2 linked regions of the Homo sapiens genome follow. Each later gene encodes a partner of the first gene's protein in a complex. Each region holds a gene or a part of one and is shown on either strand. Other genes may lie near its edges. The genes, in order: SPG7 and VDAC1.

Region 1 (8,095 bases):
TTTTATAGAGACGGGGTTTCTCCATGTTGGTCAGGCTGGTCTCAATCTCCAGACCTCAGGTGATCCGCCCACCCTTTTTTTTTTTTTTGAGGTGGAGTCTCACTCTGTCGCGCAGGCTGGAGTGCAGTGACGCGATGCGATCTCGGCCCACTTCAACCAACACCTCCTGGGTTCAAGCGATTCTCCTGCCTCAGCCTCCCAAGTAGCTGGGGTTACAGGCGCCTGCCACCACACCCAGCTAATTTTCGTATTTTTAGTAGAGAGGAGGTTTCACCATGTTGGCCAGGATAGTCTCCCAACTCCTGACCTCAGATGATCCACCCACCCTCGGCCTCCCAGAGTGCTGGGATTACAGGCGTGAGCCACGGTGCCCAGCATTTTTTTTTTTTTTTTTTTTTTTTTTTTTGAGACGGAGTCTCACTCTGTTGCCCAGGCTGGAGTGCAGTGGCGCGACCTCGGCTCACCACAACCGCCACCTCCCGGGTTCAAGCGATTCTCCTGCCTCAGTCTCCCTCCTGAGTAGCTGGGATTACAGGCGCCTGCCACCACACCCAGCTAATTTTCGTATTTTTAGTAGAGATGAGGTTTCACCATGTTGGCCAGGCCGGTCTCCAACTCCTGACCTCAGGTAATCCAGATCCAACCACCTCGGCCTCCGAAAGTGCTGGGATTACAGGCGTGAGCCACCACGCCCAGCCCCATCTTTTAAAGAAGAATAAAATCTGGTTCTACATGGATGAGTAAAGCCCAGTTAACAAGTGATATAAGAAGAAACTGTTTCCTAAGAAAGAGCTTCAGGAAGAAAATGTACTAAAATTTACAGAGATGAACTCGTTTATTTTCAAGCATTCCACAAGGTAACATGTTTTATGTAAGACATCCTCATATTCAACACATACCTTATTGTTCTGCCTGACTTTGCTTCAGCAGGAGGAGTCGCCGTGGGGGCGGCTTTGGCCATCATTATGGGTGCTGCAGTCCAAGAGCTCTGGAGGCCAGGCTAACTGCAAAAGCAAATGTACTTAAAAAAATTTTTAAGTTTAGTTGCTGCCAAATTTGGAAAGAAGCAAATATGTAATTATTTGTTCAGATATTAATAAGGAAGCCTAGATTTTTTTTTTTTTTTTTTTGAGACAGTCTTGGCCTGGCGCGATGGCTCATGCCTGTCATCCCAGCTACTCGAGAGGCTAAGGCAGGAGAATCGCTTGAAGCTGGGAGGCAGAGGCTGCAGTGAGCTGAGATCGCACCACTGTACTTCAGCCTGGGCAACAGAGTGAGACCTTGTCTCATAAAAAAAAAGACAGGGTCTCACTCATCACTGAGGCTGGAGTGCAGTGGCAAGATCTTAACTCACTGCAGCCTCCACCTCCCAGGTTCAAGCGATTCTCATGCCTCAGCCTCTCGAGTAGCTGGAACTACAGGCATGTTGCCACCGTGCCTGGCTAATTTTTTTGTATTTTTAGTAGAAAGAGAGTTTCGCCGTGTTGGCTAGGCTGGTCTTGAACTCCTGACCTCAAGTGATCCACCTGCCTTGCCCTCCCAAAGTGCTGGGATTACAGGCGTGGGACATAGCACCCAGCCAGAAGCCTAGATCTTTTTTTTTTTTTTTCAGATGGAGTCTCTGCCTCCCAGATTCAATCGATTCTCCTGCCTCAGCCTCCCAAGTAGCTGGGATTACAGGCACCTGCCACCGTGCCCGGCTAATTTTTTCTATTTTTAGTAGAGACTGGGTTTTACCATGTTAGCCAGGATGGTCTCATCTCCTGATGATCTCGTGATCCACCGGTCTCGGCCTCTCAAAGTGCTGGGATTACAGGCATGAGCCACCGCCCCAGCCAGCCTAGATCTTAAAATCAAAAAAAGTCCCAAAGATCAACTTCTGTCTCTGGAATGTTAAACGTTACTGTTTGATAGATGAGGCAACTGAAGTTTGTAGAGCACCTTGCCTGAAGCTTCAGCCCACAGCAGGAATAAGGGACAGAGCCTAGAATGCTTCTGCATCAACAGGGAACAAAGGCATGGGGTCTCCTCTCTGTCCACCTTCCCTTCCCACAGCCCAGGCTGAAAGGGCTGCCCTAGGCGCTCCTGAGGCCTCCTCTCTTATGGGGCTAGAGCTGAGGGAACCTGGGGTTGGTAGCCATCCAGAGACCTAAGGCGTGCCCTGACCCAAACCAGGAGTCACCAAGAGACTGCCTCTAGAGAATAGGCGGGGAAGGGAAGTCACACCAAGTCCAAGCGCAGAGTTCAGAGGGCTGAGGAGGGGTGACGCGGAAGTACAAATGAGTAAGCAGCAGTTAGGAAGTGTGCCAAGTCCTGACGTGCAGAGTTCAGAGGGCTGAGGAGGGGTGACACGGAAGCACAAATGAGCAAGCAGCAGTTAGGCAGTGCAGGAAGAACACACAGGCGGAGAAGGGAAAGCGAACGTCCTGCTCTGCTGCAGGCTATGAGGGCAAAGGCAGACCCGGGAGCCCACTGTCCTACAGATCCTTCTTCTTGAATCCAAATCATGCAGCAAAATAAAAACAAAACCCCCAAACCATGGGGCACCCGAATCCTTAAACAAAACCCCTACTGCTTGAGGCTACGTGAGCCTCTGCTGCTGCCGCCACTACAGCAGGGGCTGAAGCTGAGAGCTGAGAGTCACGGTTCACCTGTAGGGCCTGGGATGCAGCCAGCCTTCAAAGCACGGTTGTTAGAGATGAGTTTGAATAAATGCATAAATACTCTGTTCCCATATCCTCATTTCCCATGACGTCCCAGTAATAACTCTGGATGCCAAGGCTTCCTGGCTCGTCAGTTGCCCTCACACACATTTATTGCATTTTATCTTCATAACCACCCTGTGGGAAACCCAAGGCTGATATTAGCCTTGCTTTGCAGATAATTATCATCCCCATTTTACCGCTGAGAAGATTGAGGCTTGAGGAAGCTAATAACTTGCTTAAGGTCATAGGCCAGAGGAGACAGAACCCAGTGTTCTTTCCCCAGAGGAGGCCTCTTGCCAACACCCCACACTGCTTCTGATGAATTGCCAGGAAACAATTTTAACTTATCTCAAACAATATTAATAGGACTACACTTAAACTCCTCCCAAACACATCCAAATGTGTGCCCTCACCCTCTCTCCAGCCTTGTCCCGTGACCAACCCAACCAAACTTCCGAAAGGGTTTTTTGTGTTCTAGGAAGTGACCGAGCCCCACAACCCTTTATGCCTGTGCGTTCAGAGGATTTGTGACCTTTTTTTTTTTTTTTGAGATGGAGTCTCGCTCTGTCGCCCAGGCTGGAGTGCAGTGGCGGGATCTCGGCTCACTGCAAGCTCCGCCTCCCGGGTTCACGCCATTCTCCTGCCTCAGCCTCCCGAGTAGCTGGGACTACAGGCGCCCGCCACAGCGCCCGGCTAATTTTTCGTATTTTTAGTAGAGACGGGGTTTCGCCGTGTTAGCCAGGATGGTCTCGATCTCCTGACCTCGTGGTCCGCCCGCCTTGGCCTCCCAAAGTGCTGGGATGAAGGGCAGGGAGAGGGAGGGGGAGGGCACCGCGCCCGGCCCACCTGGTGTCTTTCAATCAGGGAAAGAAAAAATAGTGGAGGAGGAAACGGCAAGGTTGGATTCACTGCGAAGGCTGACTGTACAATAAGAAGCAAAAGGAAAAGCGGTTCAGTTGTGAAAATCAGTGTCAGCCCTGGGTGTAGGGGAAGGTCCTCTCCACAAACCAACAGAACACCTCCCCAGCCCCGAGCACCTCTGCCGAGGCACCCGGCCCACTGGAGGGCTGAGGGCGGATAACCACGATAACTGAAAACACTTTCCTGAGCGTCTCGGGGCTGAGGAAGAGGGAGGATTACACGCAGCCCACTGGCTTTGCAACCTCGTCTGTAGTGGTGGAGTGAGTGCAGGTCCAGAAACAAACCAGACCGGCCTTGAAATTCTGCCCTAACTTCAGAGCTGTAATCCTAGGCAGGTTACTTTTAATACTTCTGAATCTTTCTTTACATGTAAAATAGAGGTATTGTATTCGCTGCACAGGGTTGTGAATATTACATGGGTGTTCGACACGGAGCTAGGCACTCGGTGATGTTGGCTGTCGTCACTGGCATTCACTGTTACGAATTTGCGGAGTACAGAAAAGCATAAAAATAAATAGGTCACCCTCATCCTACCTCTGTGACAGACCATCTAGTCTTTGCTTTTCCTACTCAACAAGCTTTCCAGCTCTTGGCGTCAGCTCTAGACCTAAGGCGGACGGAGGAAGGGGTCGGGGTGGCGGAGGACCCCGCGCGCCTGGGAGCCCACGAGGGACCCTGCCCGGGCCCGGAGGGCGGACCCTGAAGAGAACAGAGCCTCTTCCTAAGCTTCCAGACGGCGCCTCCCCGCTTCCTACGATGGGCTCGCGCAGCGGCCGGGGCAGGACCGAGGCTCGAAGCGCCTCCGAGGTGAGCCAGTCCGAAGGCACAGGACGGAGCGCTCCGAAGTCAGAGGTGTGCGGGACGAGCTCTGCAGACGCCTGCCAGGCCGCGCCGCACTGCGCGCTCCCTCCCTCACGACCCTCCTCCTCCGGGGCTGCCCTCCCTGCGGCGGCTGCAACTTCAGTCCTCGTCCTCGGGCGGCTCAAGACGCAGGAAAACCGCCCCCTTCCTGCGCTCCTCACACCCGAAGGGGCCCTCCCGACCCGAGGCCTCCGGCGCCGCCCTCCTGAGCGCGGGCCTCTACTCGCAGGCGGGATTCCGGCCCGCACCATCCGCCCTCGCCTGTGACCGAACCCTGCGGGTGACGCAGGCTGCCCGGGCGTGAGGCCCCTCGGCGCGGGCGGAGCACGACCACGCAGCCACGACCCGGCCGGTTATTCACCCGCCAGGCCCTGGGAATACAAGGCCGGCTTCAAAAAAACCAGGGCACCCGCGACCTCCTCGCAGACGCGCGCCCCCATACCCGGGCCTCAGGCAGCCACGAGGTAGACGGGCTCAGGCTCGGGGGTGCGGCAAGCGGCACCCGGGCGCGGCGGGGCGCAGCTGTGGGGACCGCGCAGGCGCCACGTCAGACCCCGCCCACCCCGCCGCGCAGGCGCCGTGTAGCGCCCCGCGGATCACGCAGGCGCGGCTTTCAGGCCAACATGGCCGTGCTGCTGCTGCTGCTCCGTGCCCTCCGCCGGGGTCCAGGCCCGGGTCCTCGGCCGCTGTGGGGCCCAGGCCCGGCCTGGAGTCCAGGGTTCCCCGCCAGGCCCGGGAGGGGGCGGCCGTACATGGCCAGCAGGCCTCCGGGGGACCTCGCCGAGGCTGGAGGCCGAGCTCTGCAGGTAAATCCCCGCGGAGTCCGGGCCCCACCTCCCGCCCGGCTCTGCTCTGTAAGGCCCAGCCCGGCGGGGCGGGTCGGAGGCCGCCTGGCCCCTGCGGCGGGGGAGCCTGCGCCTGTGGGCCCGCGGATCCCCCAGCTGTGGACCTCGGCGCGGAGCGACTGTTGGGGCCCTGGATCGTGGGCGCTGGGCGGGCCGGGAAGAGGCAGGGCTGGGATCCGCGCAGTCCTCGGCGTGGACTTTCCCAACCCGTCTGTTGTGTGTGGATGTTCTCCGCCCGTCTTCCTCGCCTTTTAAAGTGGAATCCAGTAACGGTTTCCGGCGTAGCACTAATTTACAGTCCACGCCTGTGGATCGATTCCGTCACCAGGAATTCCAGCGCCTTCCAGTTAGGGTGGTTATTGCCGAGTAGGGGGCCCAGAACGTTTCTGTGTCCGCAAAATACCCTGTAGCTGCATTTTGCTGTTGTCATGTAGCTCGGCACGTTATTGATACAGTCATTGAGCACCCCCTGTAGTGCGGCCTTGTTTCAGGTTCTGCTAAGGATAGGATAGCATCTCCTCCCGAAAACCAGACCTTGTGTCCTTCAGCTTTTGGGCTGATGTTTTTTTCTCCTAGCCCTCGCCTAGGAGCTTAGCCCACACCTTTTAGGTTGTTGTTTTTTCGGTTATTTTTGAGACAGAGATCTCGCTCTGTCGCCCAGGCTGGAGTGCAATGGTCTTGGCTCACTGCAACCTCCGCCTCCCGGGTTCAAGCGATTCTCCTGCCTCAGCCTCCTGAGTAGCTGGGATTACGGGTGCGCGCCACCACACCCAGCTAATTTTTGTATTTTTAGTAGAGACGGGGTTTCACCATGTTGGCCAGGATGGTCTCCATCTCTTGACCTTGTGATCCGCCTGCCTCGGCCTCCCAAAGTGCTGGGATTACAGGGCGTGAGCCACCGCGCCCGGCCATAAAACATATTTAAATGGGAAAATGTTTATCTTGAAAGGAGAACTCTGAAAGTATATACTTGTTAACTGGTTTGGTACCTGGAAATGTTCTACAAGGAGCCACTCTCTGGTGACAGCAGGAGCCCCGTGTCTGGGCAGCCACTGTGGCCTTTGGAGAGCTGGGCTGCTCCCTTTCTCCTGCAGAAGCTTCAGGCCATGGGATAGCAGCCAATGTACTTCTGTGTTTTGTTTTCTTCTTTTTTTTTTTTTTTTTTTTTTGTGACAATCTCGCTGTGTCGCCCAGGCTGGAGTGCAGTGGCCTGATCATGGCTCCCTGAAGCCTCTGCCTCCTGGGCCCAAGCAATCCTCCCACCTCAGCCTCCCAAAGTGCTGGGATTACAGACATGAGCCACCGTGCCTGGCCACTATCGTGATTTTTTGTTTGTTTATTTGTTTGTTTTTTGAGATGGAGTTTCCCTTTGTTGCCCAGCCTGGAGTGCAGTGGTGCTATCTCGGCTTACTGCAACCTCTGCCTCCCGGGTTCAAGCGATTCTCCTGCCTCAGCTTCCTGAGTAGCTGAGATTACAGGTGTGCACCACCACGCCCGGCTAATTTTTGTATTTTTAGTAGAGATGAGGTTTCACCATGTTGGCCAGGCTGGTCTCAAACTCCTGACTTCATGTGATCCACCCGCCTCAGCCTCCCAAAGTGTTGGGATTACAGCCGTGAGCCACCACGCCTGGCCAATTACTGTGTTTTAACCTGTTTACTTGCTTTTGACATTTTGATGTTACCTAAAGCTTTGACCTATTGCTCAGACTATTACTTTATATTTCAGGGCAATGTAGATATTACAAATAATTATATATTTGAACTTTTAAAAACGATTTTTAGTCTGCATTGCTTTGGTACTCTCTAATGTTGGTGTGACCTCCAGTATTGTTTTTTTTTTTTTTTCAGAGCTTACAATTGAGACTGCTAACCCCTACCTTTGAAGGGATCAACGGATTGTTGTTGAAACAACATTTAGTTCAGAATCCAGTCAGACTCTGGCAACTTTTAGGTATGTATCTGTTTAAAGAAGCAGCTGAGCATGACTGCACACTTACCGCCTCAGCTACTTGGGAGGCTGATCTTTTTTTATTTTAGAGACGGGATCTCGCCCTGTTGCACGGGCTGGAGTGCAGTACAATGGTGTGATCAGAGCTCACTACAGCCTAGAACTCCTGGGCTCAAGGGATCCTCCCCACTTTGCTTCCGGAGTAGCTAGGACTACAGGCGTGTACCGTCACACTCGGCTAATTGTTTTTTGTAGAGACAAGGTCTCACTTTGTTGTCCAGGCCCAAAGGGGCCTCTTTACTCCCTTATCCCCCAGTTGCAGAGCCTTGACCTCTTAGGCTGGAGTGATCCTCCCACCTCAGCCTTCCATAGAGCCAGGACTCCAGGCACACACCAAAGCGCCTAGCTAATTTTTGGGGGGTATTTTTTGTGGAGATGGGGTTTTGCCACGTTTCCCAGGCTGGTCTTAAACTCCTGGACTCAAGCGATCAGCCTGCCTTGGCCTCCCAAAGTGTTGAGATCACAGGCATGAGCCACCGCATCTGGCCAAGTTGTCCTTTTTTAAAAAAAATTCTGCTGTATTCCAGTAATTGGGCTGCTTGAAAAAGGTTTTTCGTGTTATCTAGTCAGCTGCAAGAATGTTTAGTAAGGATTTACAAAGTGGCTACAGATGTTTTATATCCACACAATCACTAAAAATACCCTGCAAATAATTTGCTCTTCAATAAATCATTTAATGAAACCTTGTGACATTCTTTGGTCTCTCTTGGCTTTAGGTTAAAGAACCTGAAGGATTGACACCTCTCACTTTTA
Region 2 (7,265 bases), on another chromosome or scaffold:
GAACTGGAGCCCTGACTTCACCCCCACCCCACTCCCTTTATTTGACCTGGGATTAAAAAAAAAAAAAAGACAACTTGCATTTCAAGGTGAGTTAGCTTCTGATCTTAATATAACTTATTTTCCTTCAGGAAAAAAAATGCTAAAATCAAGACAGGGTACAAGCGGGAGCACATTAACCTGGGCTGCGACATGGATTTCGACATTGCTGGGCCTTCCATCCGGGGTGCTCTGGTGCTAGGTTACGAGGGCTGGCTGGCCGGCTACCAGATGAATTTTGAGACTGCAAAATCCCGAGTGACCCAGAGCAACTTTGCAGTTGGCTACAAGACTGATGAATTCCAGCTTCACACTAATGTGTAAGTGTACATGGGGGCAGCAGGGTGGGAGGGGTGGGGTTGGAGCATGTGTGGTAAGGGGATTGCTTTTCACTGTTTTTTTTTTTTTTTTTTTAAGAAAGCCCAGTTTTTAACCACTGTAAAGTGAGTTTGTTGGCATTAGATGAGCCACATGGCCTGCTGCTATCTTTTGTTTCCCACCTACCCATTTCCTGGAGTGTCTTAGATCCTTTCCACTCTGTGAACAGTATATATTGCCACAGGTACACAAAGTGGCTGATTAATTACAGCAGGGACATGGTGTCAGTCCAGAGCGTGTCCATTCCCTGCAGTTTTTGTTTTAGTTAACAAAACAGCTCTCTTTCTCTGTCTAATGCCTGAGGATTAGCCTGCTGGGCTTGATGACATGTAGACATGGTAGACAAATTTAGGAGCTGATTATCTCAGTTACAAACTATCTTCTCTGTACAGTGAAGCATGTAAAAGTAACTATTGGACAGTATGGTGAAGGGAAACAGTGATTATAGGTTAGGAGAGAGCCCCTTGAGAATTGAAGTAGATTGATGATTTAAGTTAAGGGAAACACATTTCATTCATGAATCTTGTTTTATCCATAAACCTTGTTTTATTTAGTTTCATGAGGAATTAACCTGTGACAGGCACAAGCTGGGTGCAGAGTTACCATGTTTATTTCTTTCCACTAGAGGTCACTAAAGAAGTAACTTCTTAAACTTAAGGCAAATCAGTGATATTAATGTGTAAACTAATATTTCCATTAATAAATTTTTTGAGGAATTTTTATCATTAATTTGGAATCTGTTACAGCTAAAAAGTCACAGGAAAACTATAGAGATGGACAATCTAGTGGTTGGCAGGGGGCGGGGAGGGTATGACTACAAAGCAGTGACTGAGGGAGTTTCGGGGAGGGAACTGTTCTATATTCTGACTGTCGTCATGGTTACATTAATCTGTGTACGTGTGTTAAAATTCGTAAAAATGTATACCAAGAAAATATCCATTTTGGCCGGGCGTCGTGGCTCACGCCTGTAATCCCAGCACTTTGGGAGGCCGAGGCGGGTGGATCACGAGGTCAGAAGTTCAAGACCAGCCTGGTCAAGAAGGTGAAACCCCATCTCTACTAAAAATACAAAAATTAGCTGGGCGTGGTGGCGGGTGCCTGTAATCCCAGCTACTTGGGAGGCTGAAGCAGGAGAATCGCTTGAACCTGGGAGGTGGAGTTTGCAATGAGCCGAGATCACGCCACTGCGCTCTAGCCTGAGCAACAGAGCAAGACTCCGTCTCAAAAAAAAAAAAAAAAAAAAAAAGCAAAGAAAATATCAATTTTATTATATGTTTAATTAAGAAGAGGTGAAACATACTAAAAAGCTATAGGAAACATACCACATGCATAGAAATGTTTTTGAACGTAGAATTCTGATTGGCATGGGAAGTGTTTTCCTTGGTTTGAAATTGGGCATTGGCACCAATTCTTCAGTACCAATTCTAGGAGGAACAATGGCTGTTAGCCATTTCCCCCACATATCTGAGCTTCAGCATTTTAAATAAGCAACAAGTGGGTATGGTTTATTTTTGGAACCAGCGTGAAGGCAGCTGACACAACTCATCTGGGTTGCCCTGGTGCTTGCAGGGGCCCAAATGCATAACAGAAATTCTTTGTGCTTCATATAGATGAATTTGAACAGTTCCACCTGTGTATTTATTTATTTATTATTATTATTTTTTGGTGACAGGGTCTCACTCTCTCACCCAGGCTGGAGTTCAGTGGCACGATCTCTGCAGCCTCCACCTCCCGGGATTAAGTGATACTCCCACCTCAGCCTTGCAAGTAGCTGGGACTACAGGTGCATGCCACCACACCTGGCTAATTTTTGTATTTTTTGTGGAGGCAGGATTTCGCCATGTTGCCCAGGTTGTTCTTGAACTTGTGAGCTCAAGCGATCTGCCCGCCTTGGCCTCCCAAAGTGCTGGGATTACAGGTGTGAGCCACTGCATCTGCCTTCTGTTTATGGTTTTGAAAGCTCTGTACAGGAAGGCAGTATTGTGTTCCTGGTTTTAGGATATTCTGAAAAGTCTGGCCTTTTTTAAAAACATGTAAGCCCAAGAAACTTCCCCATTTGAATATATTACTAAAGTCATTCAAAAATCTTATTTTTGACAGGCTGCTGTTTTATTGTAGCATACTTGGGCTGTCTACAGAAGACAGGATTCTCTGTGAATCAGGCAGTGCCTGGGTCTCCCTGTACTTTCTAGAAGCATAATGTCTGTCTCGCTGAATTTCATGGGGAAACGAAAATTTACAATGTGTGGCTCATACGTGTAATCCTAGCTACTTGGGAGGCTGAGGCGGGAGGATCACTTGAGGCCAGGAGTTTGGGACCAGCCTGGGGAACATAGAAATACTCTGTCTCTAAGAAATTTTTTAAAAATTAGCTGGGCATGGTGGCAACATGCCTGTGATCACTTGAGCCCAGGAGTTTGAGGTTACAGTGAGCTATGATTTTGCCACTGCTCTCCAGCCTGGGAAACAGAGCAAGATCCCATCTTGGGGAAAAAAAAAAAAGAAAATTTAGAATGTATTCTCTGATTTAGGGAGAGTGTCTTGTGAAGACTAGAGTTTTTGTTCTTAGGTCCTGAAGCCCTTTGCTGGATTCCAAAGTACGTGGGCTCTGACTCACAGTTAACCAATGCCATTTCCACTGGAAATGCCCACAATGATGAGGCAGAACTCAGACACTGATTTTATGTTAAAGATGTTTGAGAGGGTCTAGGCAGGCTTGAAGACCATCTGATGCAAGGAGGATGGTCATTCCTTTTTAAAAAATTGCAGCATTAAAATTTTTCTTAATTTTTTTAATCAAAGGAGTCTGAACCCATGGTTGTAAAATCAAACAGTACAGATGGGCCTATGAAAAGCAGTGATTCCAGCCTGCCTCAGCCTGCTCATCCCAGCTCCGCAGTGGCAGCCACTTTAACTGTTTTTGTTTTCTGTGGTTCCCTCCATGGAGAAGGTTGCTTCTGACCAGGCACCAGTATGCACTGTGTGTATAAACAACAATCTGAAAGCAGTAATGAGAGACAGTCTATGATCTGTGCCGACCCCAGCCCGACAGAGGACAAAGTGTAGACTCTGAGCTCTTCGTATGCCTTTTTAGGGGTGGCAGTGACTGCAGAGTTTGTATAGGCTGTTCAGCTGGGTGGGGCAGACTTTCAAATTCTGAGAGCTTAAGCAGGGCCCCAAAAGAGGAAGAGGAGAATTTGAATGACTGAAGAAGGGAAAGGGATATTCCCAGCAACTGGAGTCATTCAGTGTGTTTGTAAGAGAGGAGGGAGCTTGGCCAGCTGGGGTTTCATTCTGAATGTTTTTGAAAGAGGGAGACATTTTATGATGTAGCAAAAAGCTCCCTTTCAAATCCTGCCAGGCTTAGATGTTGCAGCATGGGTGAGGAGTATGCACAGGTGGACGAGATGAATTGTGGATTAAGCTCTTTTGAAGTGCTGCTCCTCCAAGAGGCTGGGTCAGTGCCAACTGTATCTCCCCAGCAGTGGCTGCAGCAGGTTGTGCCAAGGGCTCTAACTTGCCTTCTGAGGCATATGTGCAGCCCCACCTTTCTTGCCATTTCTGGCTGTGTTCTCTTCTCATTTTCTTCTCTTTCCATAACATTTTTTATTTTTACTTTTATTTTTTGAGCCAGAGTCTCACTCTGTCACCCAGACTGGAGTGCAGTGGTGAGATCTCAGCTCACTGCAACCTCTGCCTCCTGGGTTCAGACGATTCTCCTGCCTCACCCCCCCAGGTTGCTGGGATTACAGGCACCTGCCACCATGCCCAGCTAATTTTTATGTTTTTAGTAGAGACAGGGTTTCATCATGTTAGCCAGGCTGGTCTCAAACTCCTGACCTCAAATGATCTGCCCGCCTTGGCCTCCCAAAGTGCTGGGATTATAGGCATGAACCACTGCACCCGGACTTCCATGCCATTTTTCTGGTAGAATCGTTTATAAAAGTAATAACATCAGTAGCAGTAAAAATAAATCACTCAGAATCTCAGTGCTCTACTTGCTGCTTCTTTTTTTTTTTTTTCCTTATAGAGACAGGATCTCGCTCTGTTGCCCAAGCTATATCCTGGGCTCAAGCAGTCCTGCTGCCTCGGCCTCCCAAAATGCTAGGATTACAGGCGTGAGTCACCACGTACCCCCTCTCCCCTGGCTTTTTCTTTTTTTGTTTGAGACAATGTCTTGCTCTGTTGCCCAGGCTGGAGTGCAGTGGCGCGATCTCGGCTTACTGCAACCTCTGCCTCCCAGGTTCAAGCGATTCTCCTGCCTCAGCCTCTTGAGTAGCTGGGATTACAGGCGTATGGCACCAGCCCGGTCAATTTTTGTATTTTTAGTAGAAACAGGGTTTCACCATGTTGGCCAGGCTGGTCTCAAACCCCTGACCTCAAGTGATCTGCCCATCTCGGCCTCCCAAAGTGCTGGGATTACAGGTGTGAGCCACTGTGCCTGGCTAGGTGCCTGTTCCATACTTATCAGACTTCCTGTAATTTAGTACCTGTTTTGTGAAATTTGGTGAACTTCTGACTTCCCTTAATACCAGTATTGGTTCAGTCCATTTCTGTCATCCCTGTCTTCTGGGAGACTTGGGTGGATCTGTCTGGGCTGCAGCTCACCTCCCTGGGAAGCTCAGCATCTGTCCTGTGCTTGTTTGCAGGAATGACGGGACAGAGTTTGGCGGCTCCATTTACCAGAAAGTGAACAAGAAGTTGGAGACCGCTGTCAATCTTGCCTGGACAGCAGGAAACAGTAACACGCGCTTCGGAATAGCAGCCAAGTATCAGATTGACCCTGACGCCTGCTTCTCGGTGGGTATCTGTGGAATCACGCATCTCACAGGCAGGCCCATCTGCTCTTTATGTTGGAATCCTTCAGGTTTGCTGGAGTGCTGTGCTTCAGCTTACTCAAAGTGAGAGATGCTGCTGGGCGCCGTGACTCACGCCTGTAATCCCTGCACTTTGGGAGGCCAAGGCAGGCAGATCACTTGAGGTCAGGAGTCTGACACCAGCCTCGCCAACACGGTGAAACCCTGTCTACTAAAAGTACAAAAATTAGCCGGGCATGGTGGCGTGTGCCTGTAATCCCAGCTACTCGAGAGGCTGAGGCAGGAGAATTGCTTGAACCGGGGAGGCGGAGGTTGCAGTGAGCTGAGATCGTGTCACTGCACTCCAGCCTGGGTGACAGAGTGAGATTCTATCTCAAAAAAAAAAAAAAGACTCCGTCTCAAAAAAACAAAAACAAAGTGAGAGATGTTCTCACTTTGAAAAGAGTGCCAAATGAGTACAGTGATCATACTACTAGTACTTCTTATGGGTACCAGGCACTGTGCAGAGCCTTTTGTGTAGATTACTGTGTTTAATCCCATTTGAAATAGGTGCTTTGGTTTTTTAATCATCTCTGGGTTTTTTTTATTTTTTGTTTTTTTGAGACAAGGCCCAGGTTGGATGCAGTGGTGTAATTGCAGCTCACTGCAGCCTCATCCTCCTGTGCTCAAGTAATCCTGCCACCTCAGCCTCCCAAGTAGCTGGGACTATAGGCACACCAGCATGCCTGGCTAATTAAAAAAAAATTTTTAGTAGAGACAATGTCTCACTCTGTTGCCTGGGCTGGTCTCAAACTCCTGGGCTCAAGCTGTCCTCCCACCTCAACCTCCCAAATGTTGGGATTACAAGGCATGAGCCACCATGCCTGGCCAATCATCTCTGTTTGTTTGTTTTTTTTTTTGAGACGGAGTCTCCCTTTGTTGCCCAGGCTGGAGTGCAATGGCACGATCTCAGCTCACTGCGCAACCTCCGTCCCCCAGGTTCAAGTGATTCTACTGCCTCACCCTCCCATGTAGCTGGGAACACAGGCACCCACCACCACACCTGGATAATTTTTGTGTTTTTAGTATAGACGGGGTTTCACCATGTTGGTCAGGCTGGTCTCGAACTCCTGACCTCAGGTGATCTGCCTGCCTCGGCCTCCCAAAATGCTGGAATTACAGGCATGAGCCATGGCCCCTGGCCAATCATCTCTGTTTTTACAAATGAGGAACTAGAAACTTAGGTGAGTAACTTGCTCAAAGGTACACAGCAGGAAAGTGCTGGGAGCTGGATTTGAACCAGACTGGCTTACTGTTAAGCCTCTTCCATTAATACCAGTTCCTGTTCTATCATGCGGACTGTTAAAAGGGGCACTCTGAAATCTAGGGTTCTAATTGATAATTCCCCCCGCCCCGCCTCACTTTTCATTCTCCTTTTCAGCTCCTGCATTGCATATTAAGAAATCAATAGTCAGTTGGCATCTTGCAGAGTCTCTGGCATTGCTCACAGGCCCTCGAACTACTACACAGTTTTTGCAGTAAATCCTATTGGGCTCATTTCTGTTGTCACAGGGCACTGGCGGCTGTATCTCTTTGGGGTGAAATGAGGGAATCTCATGTTGCAGAATGGTGTCTGTACTGGTTTGTGTAATTTATGGACAGCCCTTTTTAAGTCTCCTAAACTAGAACCGAATTTGGCTCCCTTAACAGCAAGCACTTAAAAACAAGAGAAAAGGAGCCTCATTATTTATATGAGCAAAAGGACACTGGCCCCTAAGAGGCCTTCCTTCTCTCTGCTTTGTTCTTATGAGGGGTGTCAGATCTCAGCACACCCTTTGAACAGAAAGGTATGCACCTAAAATTGATGTATTTTGTATTGAATTTAATGAATCTCATGAACAAGGTGGTCATGAAAAATTTTGATTCTAAAGTCCAAGGTTGGTTGACTAAAAAGCTCTAATTTTGGAGATGGAAGTGCAAAGTATTATACTTAATGTTTTCTCTGTTTTGTCATTTCCTTGATTAGGCTAAAGTGAACAACTCCAGCCTGATAGG

What was found.
Region 2: SPG7 (region 1) and VDAC1 share a complex: the UniProt entries of both Homo sapiens proteins name them as parts of the mitochondrial permeability transition pore complex.

What each region holds. Positions count from the first base shown.
Region 1 is NC_000016.10:89,503,308-89,511,402, forward strand, and holds the start of SPG7 (mitochondrial inner membrane m-AAA protease component paraplegin isoform 1 precursor), read left to right. Parts: upstream 1-5,095; 5' UTR 5,096-5,110; coding exon 5,111-5,293; intron 5,294-7,182; coding exon 7,183-7,285; intron 7,286-8,095. UniProt on the Homo sapiens protein: Catalytic component of the m-AAA protease, a protease that plays a key role in proteostasis of inner mitochondrial membrane proteins, and which is essential for axonal and neuron development.
Region 2 is NC_000005.10:133,973,820-133,981,084, reverse strand, and holds part of VDAC1 (non-selective voltage-gated ion channel VDAC1), read left to right. Parts: intron 1-86; exon of another isoform or gene 87-128; coding exon 129-356; intron 357-5,063; coding exon 5,064-5,214; intron 5,215-7,236; coding exon 7,237-7,265. UniProt on the Homo sapiens protein: Non-selective voltage-gated ion channel that mediates the transport of anions and cations through the mitochondrion outer membrane and plasma membrane.